2 separate regions of the Homo sapiens genome follow, and region 1 is linked to region 2. Evidence: fine-mapped expression QTL. A gene starts in region 2. The other region holds a variant in brackets. All regions are shown on one strand. Distances are from middle to middle. Region 1 overlaps ANKRD36C (ankyrin repeat domain 36C). Region 2 holds the start of LINC03052 (long intergenic non-protein coding RNA 3052).

Region 1 (5,382 bases), 320 kb after region 2:
AGAAAAGCATCCTACTCAGAAAAGAAATGTGAAATTATCTCTAATTGCAGACAACATGATCCTGTATACAGAAAACCCTAAATATTCCACCAAAAACTGTTAGAACTGATGCATGAATTCAATAAGGTTTCAGGATACAAAATAATCTAACAAAGATCAGAAGTGTTTCTGTATACAAATAACAAACTACCTGAAGAAATTTTTAAAAAATCCCAAGTACGATAGCAACAGAAATTAAATACTTAGGTGTAAATTTAAGCAAAAAATTAAAAGTCCTGTATATGAAAAACTATAAAACACCAATGAACAAAAATTTAAAAACACAAGTAAATGAAAAAAAAAAATTCATGCTTGTGGATGGGATGAATTAATATTGTGATAATGAACAAAATACCAAAAGCAACATATTTGATGCAATCACTATCAAAATTCCAATGCCATTCTTTTACAGAAATGGAAAAAAATCTTGACATTTGTATTGAACAGACCTAAAATAGACAAAATAATCTTGAGCAAAAAGAACAAAGCTAGAGACAGCCTGCTACCTAATTTTATTACATATTGTAAAACAATTGTAATCCAAATAGCATGGTAGTGGCATATAAATGGACAAACTGGCTAAACAAAATGGAAAACCCAGAAATAAACCCACACACAGTCAACTTATCTTTGACAAAGGTGCCAAGGACATACAATGGTTAAAGGATAGTCTGTTCTACAAATGGTGTTGAGAAAACTGAATATCCACAGGAAAAATAAAGTTAGTCCCTTAACTTACACCATATACTAATATCAACTCCAAATGAAGATTTAAATAGAAGGCCTGAACTGTAAAATTACTAGAAGAAAACATAGAGTTAAAGCTCCACAACACTGGTCTCAGCAATACTGTTTTTGATGTAACCCTGATAGCAGTCAACAAAAGCAGAAATAGACAAATTTCTTGTGGCTTAGTTTTGAATTTCTGGTCATTTACTCAATCTGGTCATTACTTTCCCACACTTCATGGTTACAAGTAAGCCAAGAGGTGGATCCACCTTCCTACTGCAGTATCTGAAAATCACTGTCTGTTCTATCCTCGGCCTGACCCTCTCTGGCATTCTTGGGATCTACATTTTGATGGAAATGTAATGCTCTGGAACCCTAGGCATATATGAACCAGAAACACGTATGCAGACTCTACTTACAGACAGCAACATAGTTGGAAATATATTAATCACAGTTGGATAGGAACAAATATTTTATATCTCTTTCTTAGAGATCTGGATTCCACTAAAACGGATTCATGGATGTCAGGGCATTAGGGGTGTGGATTGATAACAAACCTCTCCTTTTTCAGTGCCAAACAAACTTAGAAATAAAAACAAGAGGTCAGATCAATATCCAAATACATTATTCCTCCTAAAGCTGATTTAGAAACTATGGCTTAATGTTGACCAAAAAAGACTTCTAATATTGCCCCCTAGCCTTGACTTTAGAACCTGAACAAAAAAAAGTTCATCTGAAGAACAGTCAGTTACCCACCCAGTGCAGGGAGGGTCTTCACCTGCCTTCCACTTCTCCTGTTCAGAATCCAGAGGAGAAAGAGAGACTAGATGTACTCATTGATCACTGAGTAAGTTTGCCTTACTAATAGGCAAACGTGGACCAATGGATTTGATGGGACCAATGGATAAGATTTCCCATCCACCAAATAAATCACATCTTCTCCTGGCTCTGGGAATGAGCCAGATAAAGGTGAAGAGTTGGCAGTGTTTCTACTCAATATTTGTGAGAAGACCGAAGGTGTTGTCAATGGGTAGACAGAAATGGAATGAGGTGGGAAAGTTTTACTCGTTTGACCAACTTCTTTTCATTCATGTAGTATATGCTGAAGGTAACCGCTAGAAGAATTGACTTCTGGAAAGATGATTTCCCTCACAATTGCTTGATCTTGAGTATTTTTATTTTTGTGTTAAAGAACTGATGTTGGTTTGTGTACACTGAAATAATGGGGGGAAGCTCTGTATGGACGGAAAAGAAAGTTTCCTTTCTTTTCAGAGCTTTCTGTTCAGGTTATCGGAGTCTCCCTATTCATGGGATGAGTGTCCACAACAAACTCCACAATCCTGTGTCTGGTCATTGAAGGTATGTATCAGAGTGACACTTGGAAGCATGGTATAAAGAGGAAATATGCATTTGTCAAATGAAAAATTAAAATATAAAAAAAGTTTAAAAGGAAAAACAGAATGAGAAGGGCAGGGGCTTGATTAGAGTTTTGTTAACTGGGACAAACATTGCAGTTTTAGTCAAATATTGCCATCTTTGTAGTGGAAGACTTTGACATGTAAGTTCTAGATTATACTTTCATTTATAAATAACTGTGTAGCTTAATGAGATGGCCCCTGTTAGTATCTTAGGCCATCTATTGAAGGTTTACTAAATTCTTCCAAAGCATGTGAGTCTGCTCCTCAGCAAAGCAGTGACAAACCTGCTTTTCCCTGGTTTCCCCAACGGTGTAAAAGCTTATTAAAGAATTCCTGAACAATATAAAGTTCTCTCAGAAAGACGGAACTTCCCAAGCTCTTGTCTCAGGAGAGAATGTGGATTATAGAAAGATTGTGGGTGTGAGTGGAGTGGGAAGTTATTTAGGTAGTAAGATTTTCAGGCTTGGCGCAGTGGCTCACACCTGTAATCCCAGCACTTTGGGTGGCCGAGGCGGGCAGATCACAAGGTCAGGAGATGGAGACCATCCTGGCTAACAGGGAGAAACCCCATCTCTACTAAAAATACAAAAAAAAACTAGCTGGGAACCTGTAGTCACAGCTACTCGGGAGGCTGAGGCAGGAGAACCGCATGAACCCAGAAGGCGGAGCTTGCAGTGAGCCAAGATCTCGCCACTGCACTCCAGCCTGGGTGACAGAGCCAGACTCCGTCTCAAAAATAATAATAATAA[A/T]AAAAAAAAGTTAAAGAGGCCAAGAAACATCATTTAAAACATGATATAAATTTTCATCAGACATAAAAGATACAAAAATATTTTCATTTAATAAATACTTTTGCATGTCACACATTTAATGGGAAACAAAATATCATGTTAACAGCCTAGTAATACAATTTTATTGTCTTTTAGATTTTTTTTGTCAGCACGTATTCTTTCTGTTTTGTTTTGCATTTGAGATGGAGTCACTCTGTTGCTCAGGCTGGAGTGCAGTGGCATGATCTTGGCTCACTGAAACCTCTGCCTCCCGGGTTCAAGTGATTCTCCCACCTCAGCTTCCCGAGTAGCTGAGACTACAGGCATGCACCACCACACCCAGCTAATTTTTGTGTTTTTAGTAGAGACAGGATTTCACCATATTGGCCAGGCTGGTCTTGAACTCCTGACCTCAAGTGGTCCACCTGCACTGGCCTCCCAAAGTGCTGAGAATACAGGCATGAGCCACTGCAGCCAGACAGCACATATTCTTGTTATGCTTTTAAAACTAGGTATTGATTTAGATTTTACTCATTAGTAGATTCTAGTGCAGAAGCTATAGAGCAGCAGTCCCCAGCCTTTTTGGCACCAGGCAGCAGTTTTGTGAAAGATAATTTTTCCACAGATGGGGGTTTGGGGGATGGTTTCAGGATGGTGATTCAAGCGTATTACATCTATTGTGCACTTTATTCCTATTATTACTACATTGTAATACATAATGAAATAATTACACAACTCATCATAATGGAGAATCAATGGGAGTCCTGAGCTTGTTTTTCTGTAACTAGATGGTCCCATCGTGAAGAGAAAGGAGACAATGACATATCATCAGGCATTAGAGTCTCATAAGGAGCATGTGACCTAGATCCCTTGAACGTGCAGTTCACAATAGGATTTTCACTCCTGTGAGAATCTAATGGCTTTGCTGATCTGACAGGAGGCAGAGCTCAGGTGATAATGTGAGCAACGGGCAGTGGCTGGAAATACAGATGAAGCTTCACTCGCTTGCCTGCCACTCACCTCCTGCTGTGCAGCCTGGTTCCTAACAGGTCATGGACCTGTCTGTGACCTGGGGGTTGGGGACCCCTGCTATAGAGGATTCAGATTTAAATTCAGAAGTTACAATGAAAAAGAATTATATTCTTTATCTAAATGATTTCACAGTTAACTAAGAGAAAGTCAGTATATGTTGAAAAGTTTATCAGTGTTAATAAGAATGAAAAATATGTACAATATGCAATTACTATTAAATATAATTTGCCCATAGTTGCACACTGAATTCATTATCATGGCAGTTAAGTATCAGAGCTTCTGGTTTCTCACTCTTCATTCATGTATTCAGCAACCATGTGCTAAGGTACTAGGACAAGCACTGGAATTACAAGATAAAGATGATACAGTCCACCCCTCAACAACTGTATGCTATAATCTGAAAAAACAAACAGGCAATTCCCGTACAGAGTCATACATACAATGACAGGCATAAGACAGCACTTATTGGAAGACATAGAAGGGATACTAGCCCAGGTTTGTGTCAATATTGTAGGCTTTTTGGTAGAGGCAATTCATAGGTTGATATCTGAAGGGGAAGGAAAACACATGTAGGATAGAGGGAAGAAGTAAATGCAAACAGCTGGAGGTGAAGACGATCACTGTGGAGCTCCATGTAGTCTAGTTTGGCTGGATGCTAGAACAAAGGTGCAGAGTATGGTAAGTGGCGAAAGATAAGGCTGAATAACTTGACAAGAACCACACTGATGTGAGAGTTTTGATTCCATGCTAAGGAATTTTCAACTTTTCCCACGGGCAAAAGTAAACCAATGACAAAGTCAATGACTAGAGATTTAAAATGTCACTGGTCAAGTGACTGCTTGTGACCTGTAATTGCTTAACTAATTATTATCACGAGTGTGGGGTCTGTTAGCCTTAAATCACTACCTTAACCTTGAGAAGTTGACGATGCCTTTGTTTTGTGAGAACAGTTTCAGTTTGCAGGCTGATAGTTCTATAGGGGTGGCAGAAGAAAAGTGTAGGGCCAGAAAAAAAGGGATACACAGACTTCTTGCGATTTTTTAAAGCTATGGAACATGATGAATTAACAAAGCATAAGTATTACCCTTCACTATGAATGTTTATGTTTTCACATCTTTCACTAGATGTGTGTAAGAAAAAATATTTAATGTAGCATTTATTAACCAAGCAATTGAGAGGGAATACCGTTCACTACTTAGAGTTTATTTCAGAAATCAATGATTGGAATTTAATTCATAAATTTTGGCAACATACCTTCATCTAGCTCTCAAACACCTGCAGCATCTGAAATAAATCAAATATTACTTATAATGTTTCAGTCAAACAAGAGACATTATCATGTAAACCCACTGTAAGTCAAGGAGCATCTGTACTGTAGATTGATCATCCCTAATCTA
Region 2 (5,382 bases):
GTGGATATCACCCTGAAACTTAATTTGTCCAAACACCTCACATAATCTGAAATTTTACAAAACATAAAGTTCATAGGATCAATACATTCTTGTGCCTTAAGTCTCCAGGCATTCAAGGATACTATTATGTGGAAACTCAGGCCTTCTACTGCATTATTGAAGGAGCACATTTGAGACTCACAGCACTTGTTGCTGTTAACAGGTCTGGACAATGAGTGATGTCAGTCCAGATAATTCTGAGGAAGGCTTTCTGCCTTGTTATAAGGAGGATAATCACTGGAGACTCTAGACAAGTTCCCAGTCATCATTCCAGCGTTTAGTTGCTGTTTTTGTAATCTCAGCATTTTTGGAGGCCAAGGCAGGTGGATCACTTTAGGTCAAGAGTTCAAGACTGGCCTGTTCAACATGGTAAAACTTTGTCTTTACCTAAAATACAAAAATTAGCGGGGCATGGTGGTGCACACCTGCAATCCCAGCTACTATGGAGGCTGAGGCAGGATAATCACTTGAACCAAGGAGGCAAAGATAGCAGTGAACCGAGATCATGCCACTGCACTCTAGCCTCGGTGACAGACTGAGACTCTGTCTCAATAAATAAATAAATAAATAAAATCACCTCTTGCATGGAGGGTGAATAAGGAGTATAACATGAGGACGTGTGAGGAAAATATGCATTAGAAGGGAAGGAGAACATACTTAACATGCCAGTGGAAGGTGAAATTCTAAATTATCTGAGAATATTTTTGAGAACTTTGTTTAATTCTCAGTGTAGAAAGATGTACCCTTTGAATGACATTAAAAATTCACTAGAAGAGTGAATAGTTAAAATGTCACATAAGTAACAAGAGTCTCAAAACAAAAAGTGTTCTAAAAGTTTAAAGTCCGTATTTGAGATAGAGGAGAGAATAAATAATAGTTCATTAATTAGTCTTTATTATGTGAAAAGACTTTTCTAAAATTCTTCCATAATAATTGAAGATATAAATTACAATAATTAAAATTTACAAAAGAATAAAAGCATTAAAATAAAGTGTGAAAAATTTAAAAAGGGTAAAGATGAAAATTATTTAATTTTTAATCTCAAAAATCCGAAAGTGATTTTATCAATGTCCTAAGAAAATTAAAATGAAAACAAACTTAATAATGTAAAGAAAGGAGGTTTCTGCCGGGCTGGGGGCGGGAGCTACGGCTTCTCTGGGGACGCGGAAGCGAGAAGCAGGGACCTTGGGGCGCGCCCGGTTTTCCGGGACGGTGCCCCGGCCCCCAGCCCACGCCTCCGGCCGCTGGCATGGTGCTGCTGGCTGGGACCCGGCCGCAGGGTGGCTGGGAGCGCTGCATGACCCCGCCACCGCCGTCCCCACTCCTAGGCGCACAGGTCGAGGAGGACCGCGCTGACTACAAAGAGTTCCAGGGCCCCACACCTGCAGCATAGCCTGGGACGACTCTGTACCCTTTCCAGGACGAGGAGGAGCACGGCGTCGAGGGCTTGGAGAGCGTCCCGGAGGAGGGCGTCCAGGAGGCATGGGGCTGCTGCGGACGCTGGTGCGGCGAGGGGTGAGCGTTGAGAAGGCGCAGGAGACTGACCACAATGGCTGGACCAGCCTTAATGTCGCCTGCTACCACGGCTTTGTGGATATACCGTGGTGGCCTTAGCTGAGTAACCCCACACTGACGTCAACTGGCAGGACAGGGAGGGGAACGCAGCCCTAAATACAGCTGCACAGGCAGGAGCTGCCTCTGGCCCCATGGGCACCGTTGCCTTGGACACTGGCTCTCAGCCTTGTGCTTCCTGGTCAGCATCACGTGGGCTGGTTCATTTGAGCTTTAACACAGATCTGGTGGAAACACAGGCTGCCAGGCCCTGCCCCTGGAGTCTTTCTTTGAATAGGCCTGGGGTGGGGCCCAAGAATGAGCAGAAGAACAGGTTTCCTGGTGAGGCTGATGCCGCTGGCCCAGGGTTCTCACGTTGAGGACCGAGAGCTTTGAGGTTTTCATACCTGATGATGTCCAGGAACCCTTCTCAGTAGGCACTGAAGACCATCAGCAGAATCACAGACCCCAGGAGAGATGTCGTCAGACAGACACAGAGGCATCACCGAATTAAAGTGAAAATGAAGAAAGGAGCTGAGCATCTGTTTCATGACTTTCGTGGCTGTTTTACTAAAGAGGCTATCCTGGCCCAGTCAGGGCACGCTATCATCACCAACTACTTGTTGAACTACGTTCAGGGTCTTGATCTTGAAGGAGGGACGCGTTCGGGTTGAAAGCCGCCATGCAGGGTCGAACGGATCGCATCGGAGCCCTGAGCTAGCAGGGGCGGGTGTCCACGCGAGGGCCCCCGCCGTGGGATGTCGCCAGAGGAGTGGCCACTTATACGTCCGCCTCATGCAGAGGCTCCTGGAGCGCCCCTGCCGGGAGCTGTTGGGGAAAAAGTACCAGCTTGAGCTGCCGCCGCTCCCCGAGAGGCCGCAAAAGCCCGAGGGCTCCAAGAACTGCCTGCAGAGGCTCAGGGACTGCGAGCTGTCCGCGCTGACGCCGCGCTCCATGCGGGGCCCAGAGGACCGGGGCGCCCTGGACCACATGGTCAGGATGACCACGAGCCTCTAACAGCCCCGCCGGGGCCCTCGCGTGCCAGACTATGTGCCCCGAGAGCACCTTGTGCTGGGGGAAGAGGCGGCTGGCGGTGCAGGAAATCCTGGCGGCGCAGGAAATTCCGGCGGCGCGGCGAGGGGTGGGGGGAGGCAGGCGCAGGAGGCGGGCGAAGAGGAGGGCGCAGAGTAGCATAAGCCGCTCGGCCTAGCGGCCGCTGGCTCCACAAAGGCCTCCCCAAGAGCCGGCCTCCCACCTGCCCGGCTGCCGGGGTCCTGGGGCTCCGCCGCCCCCGCCCCGCGGACGGCCAGCCTCCTGCCCCTGCAGTGCCTGCAGCAGAGCAGCTTGGGGCCCAGCGTGGTGGTGCCCAGGTCCGCCTCAGCAAGGTGCCCGCGCCCACCTTCCAACCCAAAAGGCCGGCGCGGAAGGGCAGCATAAAGGCAGCGGCCACCTGCGGATACCCAAGTGGCCTTACAAGGTGGCCAAGGAGGAGAAACGGGAGGCGGAGGAGGCCGAGAAGAGGCGCCAGGCCAAGGTGCAGGAGAAGCGCCCGCCGCCCTGGAAGAAGAGGACGTGAGAGTCCGCGGGTGCTTGGCACGGGGTTTGAGGGCTGGGTGAGGCCGCGGGGCTGGGCACCATGGCAGCTCTCGGGACCACCGGGCAGCGCGCGTTTCCACGCTGTCTCTCTAGGATGCTCCCAGAAAGGGGCTGGGGGAGCCACATCGATTCGCTTCACACCAGCCACCCTAGCAATCAGTACACCTAGGGGGCATGTTCCCTAAAAGGCTCCCTTTAGAGAACCTCAATTAAGATTTTTTTAAAGATTAATTTATTAGGCCAGGCGCGGTGGCTCACGCCTGTAATCCCAGCACTTTGGGAGGCCGAGGCGGGCGGATCACCTGAGGTTAGGAGTTTGAGACTAGCCTGACCAACATGGAGAAACCCCATCTCTACTAAAAATACAAAATTAGCCGGGCGTGGTGGCACATGCCTGTAATCCCAACTACTCGGGAGGCTGAGGCAGGAGAATCGCTTGAACCCTGGAGGCAGAGGTGGCAGGGAGCCAAGATGGCGCCATTGCACTTCAGCCTAGGCAACAAGAGCCAAACTCCGTCTCAATTAAAAAAAAATCAATTTATTAAAGGATATTTTCTGTGTAATTTTGTATTTTTAATTGTTGTCCAATTTGCCAAGTTTTACAAGTGATAGGGTCCCTTGTATCCAAGGAAGTTTTTATACACTTACCTGAAGACCTTTTATTTAAAACACTGTTTCCAGCAATAAATATTTATGATATCTGTAGGACTTTACACAGAAATCATGGGATTCTCTCCTTTTTGGGCTGTTTGCTTTGGTCTTCTCATCATGGGTGGATGTTTTTATTAATTAGATTAAGTGATGCCGGATATTTCTATTTGATGGAGGGATTGACTGGTTCAGCCACATGATCAAGTGAGACAGAGAGATCAGATTTTATTGTATCTTTTTAAAAAGTATTATCCAATACAGTCATATATTGAGGAAAAACATTTATCGTCAAATTATAAAACAATGCAGAGATAGGCATGTCTGTATTGCTAGAATTAAACTCATTTTAAGCAAGGAGTTTTAGATAAACTGTATACAAAAATCTTTAACATATTAAAATAGACATGAGAAAAATGTGTCATTTGATAAAATGGGGGAAATGTAATAAATGATTACCAGAAATATAAAATTAAGCCGTATATGCTCTTAAGTAAATCGAATCTAGGCATCCTTAAAATGTAAAAAAGGATGCAACAAGAGTAAGGAGCCCAGAATGATGTAAATTACAGGAATGGGGTGTAATGTAACCTCTAGAGGAGGTGATGTTTAGAAGAAGCAAAGAGAATGCAATGAGAAGCAAACTTGTTTTAGGCAAATTCTCCTGGAGTGGACCAGGCAGCCCCCTCTTCCAGACTCAGTTCCAGAGATTCCCTTATGTGGGTATTTGTTTTATTATTCCTTTGAGGACTGCATTTGGTGTTTAGTTCATCCTCATGTGGACCCTATGGAATTTCCAAGATGCGGGGCCTTAGCACTGTGGCACCTTCCTGCCACACGTACATAATTCACAGCATTACCAAGTCACCACAAGCCCCACGCTCACCTCTGTCAGCCCAGGACCCAGCCAGGCAGTGCCACGTGGTCTCCCAGGCTCGCTTCTCCAAGCCGAACTGCGAAAGTTATTGAGGCACTGGCCCAGGGAACTGAGCCTTGGGCCTGTCCTAAAGCTCCATAGGTGACTGCACTGCAGCCCACATGGAGAGCTGCAGCTCTAACACAGGGATTTTGAGAGGCCTCAGTGCCATTTAAGTGGCACTTCCAGGACACCCATCCTGAGCTCCCACAAAGGGCGCCACCTTCCCAAGAACGTCTAATTGTCATTGGAACAGCCAGTGTCAGGCAGCTTCTGCTCAGGCTGATGTGGCGTCTGACCCTTGGTGGGTTGCCAGACATTCCTTCCTGTTTCTGCCATGGGAAGTTGGCACTGGGAATGGTATGGAGCCCCCACTTCTACCCTGAGCCTTGGGTGTCTGCTGCTTCCAGGTGAAAAATGGACATTTCTGATACTGCCCAGCCACTACGGCACCACAACCCATGCTCATAGTCTCCAGGGATGTGTAGAACGGCAATGGCAGGACAGCAAACAACTGGCGATTTCCCCAGGTCCCACGCTCTTGCGGAGTGAGTATGTTGGGTCCCTGTCCCCAGTGTGTTCCAGCCTTACCCAGGTGCACAGAGTACCCTGGGGCCAGCACAGGGCTTGTC

Evidence for each region. PIP is the estimated chance that this variant, and not a neighbour inherited with it, causes the effect.
Region 1: its variant is the best candidate, but not a certain one, in a credible set for the expression of LINC03052 in whole blood (TOPMed, PIP 0.65).

The regions. Positions count from the first base shown.
Region 1 is chr2:95,845,927-95,851,308 of GRCh38, forward strand. It overlaps ANKRD36C (ankyrin repeat domain 36C), which reads right to left. Exons shown (of 88, transcript NM_001393982.1): 87 at 5,240-5,269; 88 at 3,622-4,640. The coding sequence ends at 5,246. Among named protein-coding and RNA genes, the nearest start is that of LINC00342, 22 kb to the left of the region's middle. The variant A/T (reference allele first, on the strand shown) is at 2,936.
Region 2 is chr2:95,524,058-95,529,439 of GRCh38, forward strand. It overlaps LINC03052 (long intergenic non-protein coding RNA 3052), which reads right to left and starts at 2,697. Exons shown (of 1, transcript NR_182300.1): 1 at 816-2,697. It also overlaps the pseudogene ANKRD33BP1. RefSeq lists a silencer at 2,677-2,966 and an enhancer at 3,107-3,236.